Homo sapiens: one gene and its partner. The protein of the gene in region 2 interacts with the protein of the main gene of each other region in a pairwise test. Each region holds a gene or a part of one and is shown on either strand. Other genes may lie near its edges.

Evidence for each region.
Region 1: the proteins of PROX1 (region 2) and HNF4A interact in binary tests that used the Homo sapiens proteins (3 or more experiments, as listed by UniProt).

What each region holds. Positions count from the first base shown.
Region 1 is NC_000020.11:44,421,436-44,425,473, reverse strand, and holds part of HNF4A (hepatocyte nuclear factor 4-alpha), read right to left. Parts: intron 1,457-4,038; coding exon 1,220-1,456; coding exon of another isoform or gene 1,095-1,219; exon of another isoform or gene 831-1,094; intron 1-830. UniProt on the Homo sapiens protein: Transcriptional regulator which controls the expression of hepatic genes during the transition of endodermal cells to hepatic progenitor cells, facilitating the recruitment of RNA pol II to the promoters of target genes. Activates the transcription of CYP2C38.
Region 2 is NC_000001.11:214,036,473-214,039,972, reverse strand, and holds part of PROX1 (prospero homeobox protein 1), read right to left. Parts: 3' UTR 1-3,500. UniProt on the Homo sapiens protein: Transcription factor involved in developmental processes such as cell fate determination, gene transcriptional regulation and progenitor cell regulation in a number of organs.

The DNA of each region.
Region 1 (4,038 bases), on a different chromosome or scaffold from region 2:
ATGTCTGATCAATCAGCAAATCCTGTGGGTGTGGGCTCTTCCTCCAAATAGATGATCAGGTTTATCTTCACTGCTCCATTGCCAGGGTCCAAGCCTCCATCATCCATCACATGATTGGAGACAGTGACATTCTCAGGAATCTGCAATTCACTCTCTACCCAACAGAGTGGTTTGTTTGAAGCATTAGTCTGGGATGGGTGTGGCGGCTCACACCTGTCATTCCAGCACTTTGGGAGACTGAGGTGGGTGATCACTTGAGGTCAGGAGTTTGAGACCATCTTGGCCAATAGGGTGAAACCCTGTCTTTACTAAAAATATAAAAAAATGAGCAGGGCGTGGTGGCGGGCGCCTGTAATCCCAACTACTCAGGAGGCTGTGGCAGGAGAATTGCTTGAACTCGGGAGGTGGAGGTTGCAGTCAGCCAAGATTGTGCCACTGCACTCCAGCCTGGATGATTGAGGGAGACTTTGTCTCAAAGAATAAAAATACTTAGTCTGGTTTTCACTCTCCTTACAATAGTTGCAATGAGAATAAAATCCAAATTTCTGAAAAGGCTGACAAAGCCATATGTTTATGATTTGGTTTCTGCCCAATCTCCATCTTCACCTCCTACACGTCCTCCATCTCACAACCTTGCCCTTCTTTCTCAAACACAACACTCTCTCCTATCCGCAGCCCTTGAAGTAGTTTCTTCTTCTTGGAATATTCCTCTCTTGTCTTTTAAGCCTTCCATTTCCTTTCAGCCGTTAGGGTCTTAGCACAAGAGTCACCACTTCAGAGAGGTCTCCTGTGGCCTCCCCTATCTAAAGAGGATTCCTTTTCAGTTAAACTCTATCATATTACCTGTTTATTTCAAAATCATAAAATGTGAGGCTTTATATACACATGCACGCACATACGGGCATATACACAGATATCCACGCATCCATACATACTCACACACACACAGCCTCCCCGAGGGCAAAGATCTTGTTCTTTGCTGAATTGCCAGCACTTAGAACAGTGACTGGCACGTGCTAGGTTCTCGGTGCCTGAACAAATAGACCATTGCCTTGTTCCCATTTTTCTGGTGAGGAAACTGAGGCACAGACAGGTTAAGCAACTTGCCCAAAGCGGCACAGTGGGGAAGCCAAGGAGCTGAGGGGTGAGCTCACTGTGTGAGGCCTGTCTCCTGGGGAGTCCCCACTCCAACCCCGCCCCTCCTGGGCTTGGCACGGACCTCCCAGCAGCATCTCCTGCAACAGGTTGTCAATCTTGGCCATGCCGAAGAGCTTGATGAACTGGATCTGCTCGATCATCTGCCAGGTGATGCTCTGCAAGGTGGGCAGCAGCAGCAGCAGCTCTCCAAAGCGGCCACGCGAGTCATACTGGCGGTCGTTGATGTAGTCCTCCAAGCTCACCTGCACCTGGGAACGCAGCCGCTTGATCTTCCCTGGATCGCTCAGCCCCTTGGCATCTACAATGGAAGAGGGTGGGCAAGGGAGGGCAGCAGGGTCCAGCTGGAGCATCTGGGGAGTCAAGACCCAGATGTCCCCTGACTTGTATCACACAAGGAGTCTTCAGCAGTGTGGGCACAAGGATTCAGGGACCTCAACAACCAGGGTACGCCAGCATGAATTATGATTTCCTAGACACAGGCAGAAAAAGATTTCTGCCACATTTCCTAAAGCACTAAACCAGAAGAGAGGGGAATAGGAGATGGAGGGCGGGACTTGAGGAATGCATCCAATAAGCACCTAGCAACCGCCTCATCTTACACACGGGGAAACCCAGACACAGTGCAAAGATAGGACTTGTCCTGGGTCGCACAGCCAGTTGTTGGCAGAGCCACAATGGGAACTTGGGGTTTTGGGCCACAGTTGAGGTCCCCTCATCCAGACCTCAGCAGTTGCTGCTTCTACTGTGTTAGAATAGGCTCCCCTTCCCTGGTTCCTGCTTCCTATCACCTTAGGGACTCAGGTTAGGTTTCACCTCCTCCAGGAAGTCTGCCTTCTACCCTCCTATATCTGTATCCTGTGTCCCTCCTGTTTCCAAATCTCTGCGGCCCCTCCATCACTGCTGACCACACAGGATGTAATTGTTGTGCCATCCAACTGTGAGTTTGGCAGGGGCACGCGTATGTCTTATTTGCCATTTTTATTTTATTTTATTTTATTTTGAGACTGAGTCTCCCTCTGACCCCCAGCCTGGAGTGCAGTGGCGTGATCTCGGCTCACCGCAACCTCTGCCTCCTGGGTTCAAGCGATTCTCCTGCCTCAGCCTCCCGAGTAGCTGGGATTACAGGCACACACCACCACACCCAGCTAATTTTTGTATTTTAGTAGAGACGGGGTTTCACCATGCTGGTCAGGCTCATCTCAAACTTCTGACCTCAAGTAATCTGCCTGCCTCAGCCTCCCAAAATGTTGGGATTACAGGCGTGAGCCACTGCACCCGGCCTTTGCCTTTTCAAACTCACCACCTAGCACCATGCATAGTCAATATTTATTGAATAGGGCCAGGCATGGTGGCTCATGCCTGTAAGCCCAGCACTGTCAGAGGCCGAGGCGGGGGGATCACTTGAGGTCAGGAGTTTGAGACCAGCCTGGTCAATATGGTGAAACCCCATCTCTACTGATAATACAAAAATTCACCTGGCGTGGTGACACATGCCTGTAATCCCAGCGACTCAGGAGGTGAGGTGGGAGAATCGCTTGAAACTGGGAGGTGGAGGTCGCAGTGAGCCAAGACGGTGCCACTGCACTCCAGCCTGGGTGACAGACTATATATATATATATTTTAAAAAATATATATTTATATATAAATATATATTTATTGATAACTATATGTATATTTTTTGTTAGATGGCTGGATGAATGAATGAAAAAAAAATCAGTGAATAAATTCTAGATCCTTAGCCTAGAAAGGAACTTAAGCGGTCATACAATATTTAATCTCAACCTTCATGGAGGTAATGCATTTATTTCCTCTTTCATGGACAAAGGAAGTGGCAGAAAGAACATTCACCCACATTTCTAGTGGGCTGTCTCCACTGAATCATGCTTATTCATTAGTTCATTCAGGCCACACATGTTTATTGAGCACCTCCTGCATGCCAGGCCTTGAACTAGGTCCCCCGCCCCTTCAAATTGCTGGAGGCTGCTGCCTCTGACTCAGCATCAGTGATCCTTCCCATTTTGCAGAACAATTCTGCCAGTCCAGCCTCGTGTTGAGCACTACAGAGGATACAGGCTGGGCCAGGCTGTGGAGGGAACTAGAACTAGAAATCTCACCCTCTGGTAAGTGTGGGATAGCAGGTGGTAGGTAAGAATGTGGGCTTGAGAGAGAGAAATTGGGATTGACAGGTGGTCTGAAGTTCAAATCCAAGCTCTGCCATTTTCCGGTTGTGTGACCTTGAGCAAGTTAATCATGCCTCAGTTTCCTTATCTGTAAAATGGAGATAATAATAATTCCTACTTCACAGGTACCATGTTGGTAAGTAAGACAATCCACATAAAGTGTTTAAAAACAGCTCTTTAGGGAGCATTCAATACATGGGGCTCATCTTCCACTTCATCACTCTCTCTATATATAATATATATCACTATATATATATAAAATATATATCACTATATATAATATATATTATACGTAATATATCACTATATACTATATATATCACTATATATTATATATATATAATATATATTATATATATATACACATATATGTATTTTTTTGAGATGAAGTTTTGCTCTTGTTGCCCAGGCTGGAGTGCAATGGCATGATCTTGGCTCACTGCAACCCCCGCCTCCCAGGTTCAAGCGATTCTCCTGCCTCAGCCTCCTGAGTAGCTGGGATTACAGGCACGGACCACCACACACAACTGATTTTTGTATTTTTAGTAGAGACGGGGTTTCACCATGTTGGCCAGGCTGGTCTTGAACTCCTGACGTCAAGTAATCTGCCTGCCTCAGTCTCCCAAAGTGCTGGGATTACAGGCGTGAGCCACCACACCCAGCCTTTTCATTACTATTATTACTAGAGGTAATCTATTTG
Region 2 (3,500 bases):
TTGCACTGTCTTCACATATACACTGCTTCTTTCAGGGGAGTCTGTAAACTACTCTTTCTTTCATAAATTTATGATTGTTCCTGGAGGACATCCTATTTTTTAAAGTCCCCAAATCATTAGCTTTATGACAGTGTGTGTGTTTGTGTGTGTGTGTGTGTGTGTGTGTGTGTGTATGCGCACATGTGCGCATGGGAAGGGGGGGTGTTACTTACTAAATGTCTTCATGTACATAGAAAAAGAAATTTCATAAATTTACAGAAACTGCATTACCCTTGCCCTTGACATCTGATAAAAGAGATTGTTAACTTTTAAAAGGAGAGAGCAGGATTTTCAAGAATGCTTTCAACTGTCTATACAGTCACTGTAGTGTTCCTAGTAAATTCAACAGATGTCGTGAGAATGTAGTTATTTATTAAAATCTCATGTCTTACATAATGACAGCCATGAGGTTAAATATTTACATTGCTTTATAAAAGTTCCCCTCTTGCTTTAGTGTTTCTGTTTTGCTTTTTTTTTGTTGTTTTAAATTTTTTTAAATGATATTCACCCACATCCCTAGTACAGTGACAAAGATTCTGCAAACATAAAACACTTCTTTAATTAAATAATACTCGGAGGCACAAAGCAAACTTCAGGAATATGTGGGTGAACGTTTACTTAAATAATTACTACATTCTAACATCTTCCATGTGTTTTACCATTTAATGTGAAACGTCCTCATTAAACAGCCAGAGATACAGTAAGAATTAAATGTTTTGTTGCAAATAGAACATTCTTTTCACAAAACATAACAAATGTCTAAAATAGGTTCTTAAATCTAGATAGGAAAAGGTAAGCTTTCCACTTCACACGCATATATATATATGTATATTTTTACATGTGTGTATATGTGTGTATGTGATTTTATGTTCACACATCTGCGCACACATATATAGCACATGGTATGAAATATTGCTTCTATACTACTTTTCATTAGGCTAAGAAAACACAAGATTTGCACCACAGTTACAAAAAATTGGCTTCTACAAGAATTTTCAAAACTCGAATGCTGCTCAAACAATTGAGGAAAAAATAATTTGCGGTATCAAACTGTTCTAAAAATTCTCTTCTTCAAAAACGTATTCTCCCGCTTTGTTTTAAAAAGACACAAAATATGCATAGCTATCAACGTTATGTCAAACAGCCAGAAAAAAAATCTAGTGTTTATTGCAGCTGTAGTAATTGGAAATAAAGTCAAAAAGATGAAATCGAAAGCCACAGAAGGCACAAGAACAATTGTACTTGTTGGGAAAAAACTGGTATTTTGAAGGATTTTTTAAAATCCCCCCCGCTGGTGCATTTTAGGTCTAGGCACAGACTATAACCTCAAGCGTATACGCAAAAATAATTTAGGGTTAGCAGAAAATAAGTGGTAGTGTGGTTTTTCAACATGGACTTTAGACTTTTTTTTTTCTTTTCCTATGTAAACTGTCCCTCATCCTTCACCATCCCACCATAGAAAGTTAACTTTCTCCCAAGTAGCCAATTTTCACTTGGTGAGAGTTGAGCTAAGATTTGAAAGATGGTGATTAAAAAAAAAAAATCAAACTGTTAAATAGGAATTTGGAGAGACAGGCTTTTGTCATTTTCCAATGCACTTGGGAGGCACAAGATTTCGATTGTAAAAGGGAAAACCACCGGAAAGCATAGTGATAAAGTTCTATTTTCAGAACAAAGAGGTGAGTTTATCCTCATGCTGCAATTTCTACTCTGAAATAATTTCTATGCCTCAGTGAACATTGAGAGGATATTATCAGTAGATAAGGGCATCAACATTTGGTTGTGAACACACACTTTTGCTTAATTTGTCTATTTAAATTAGAAAGGGAGGGGAAAATAATACTAAAAAAATCCAAATAAGTCTGGAATCAATATTGAACTCGCCCCAGATCAAAAAGATATCTAGCAATCTGTCTACATAGGTGAATACACTACAGCTTTGCCTTTTACCTTGCAAATGGCAACACAAAGTTGATATGAATTACACGGAACAGCAAAAACCCAGTGGCACACTGACACGAACAAGGACTGCCATCCTCTTTTAAAACAAAGCCAGTCAGAAAACTGTGACTACAAGTTGGGATTACTTCCCTATTTTGTGCTGATGGAATTTTTCCTTCCCACTTTATTCCAATGTCATGATTATCCAAACTGCTTTTTTTTAAAGCAAGTGAGAAAAATAACAAATTGGATCTAATGACTCTGTGCATTAGTAGAGTGTGAGCTGGGAGATGTGTGAGGCCGCGGGTGCAGAGTGAGGTGGCTGGTGCCCCCGCCCGTGTGGCTGCACCCTCTGTCTACACTGCGAGGCCCTGTTAGTCCCCTGGATGGTGCAGGGCATCATAGGACTGCACCATTTAATTTAAAGTCAGCAGGTTTTAAGGCTTTGTGCTGACAATAATTGAGTTCATACATTCCTGTCCATCAGCAGAATTTATAAATGACGTTAAATTACAGCGATCGGGTCAGCTAGTCAGTCACATGGGTCAAGACCTGTATTCTCCAAAGTCAAATGTAATTCTTATTAAAGTTGAATTAAAAAATGGCATTTATGTTCTATATGTTCTAAATACCAGATTTGTTACTGTGTCATTTTAGGAGGTGTATATCAAATTACCTAAGGGGAAGGAAGGGTCTGGAAAACAGTTTTAGGATGAACAATGAATTCTTACTGCATCTGGACACAAAAACCCACCTAAGAAAAAAAGTGTGAATGCCATACGAGTTTTTTCAATGCAAGTAGGGAACACTGTACATCATTGAAAAACAGGGAAAAATAAAAGGGAAAAAAGAGGAGAACCATGGAAGAAAGCATAAAATAGCAGCTAGCTTTCTTATGTGTGCTGGAATTGTGTCTTTTGGGTTAACCCCAAATTTTCCTATGCTATACACTCTTCTCACATTTTGGTCAATACTAGCTTCTGAATTGGAAGAGGCATTATCAATTGCTTTAAAATGTTATACCTAAAATGAAGAAACACTGAGTTAGACTGTCACCACTTTGCATACCCATCAGGATAGTGTGGAATTGCTTGTGAAAATATATGTGTTCCTCTTAGGAGATGACGATCAAGTCAGCTAATGGCTGTCAACAAACTTCTAGTGTAGGCAAGAATTTTATGGCCAAGTTGGGCTTTCCTTTATTCCTTACTGGAAGGAAGTATTCAGAAAATAGTATTTTAGGGGAAAAAATTGTTAAGTAAACAGAATCCTTTTAAGCATATAAACAAAGTTGAGCAGCGTAAATTGGAAACTTAGTGCCTTTTAGTATCTGAAGCAAAAATGATAACAAGTTATAGGATTTTTCTTTATGAAGAATGATGTAAGCTCACTTATGAAGAAGAACCTATTTTCAAGTTTAGAGAGGTGGCTACAAGACCAGGTATGAATTTCTAGTCTCATCTTGAGAGAGCTGGTTTTGTGCAAAATTGCTTTGCCTCCAGAAGAAACTGGTACGACTT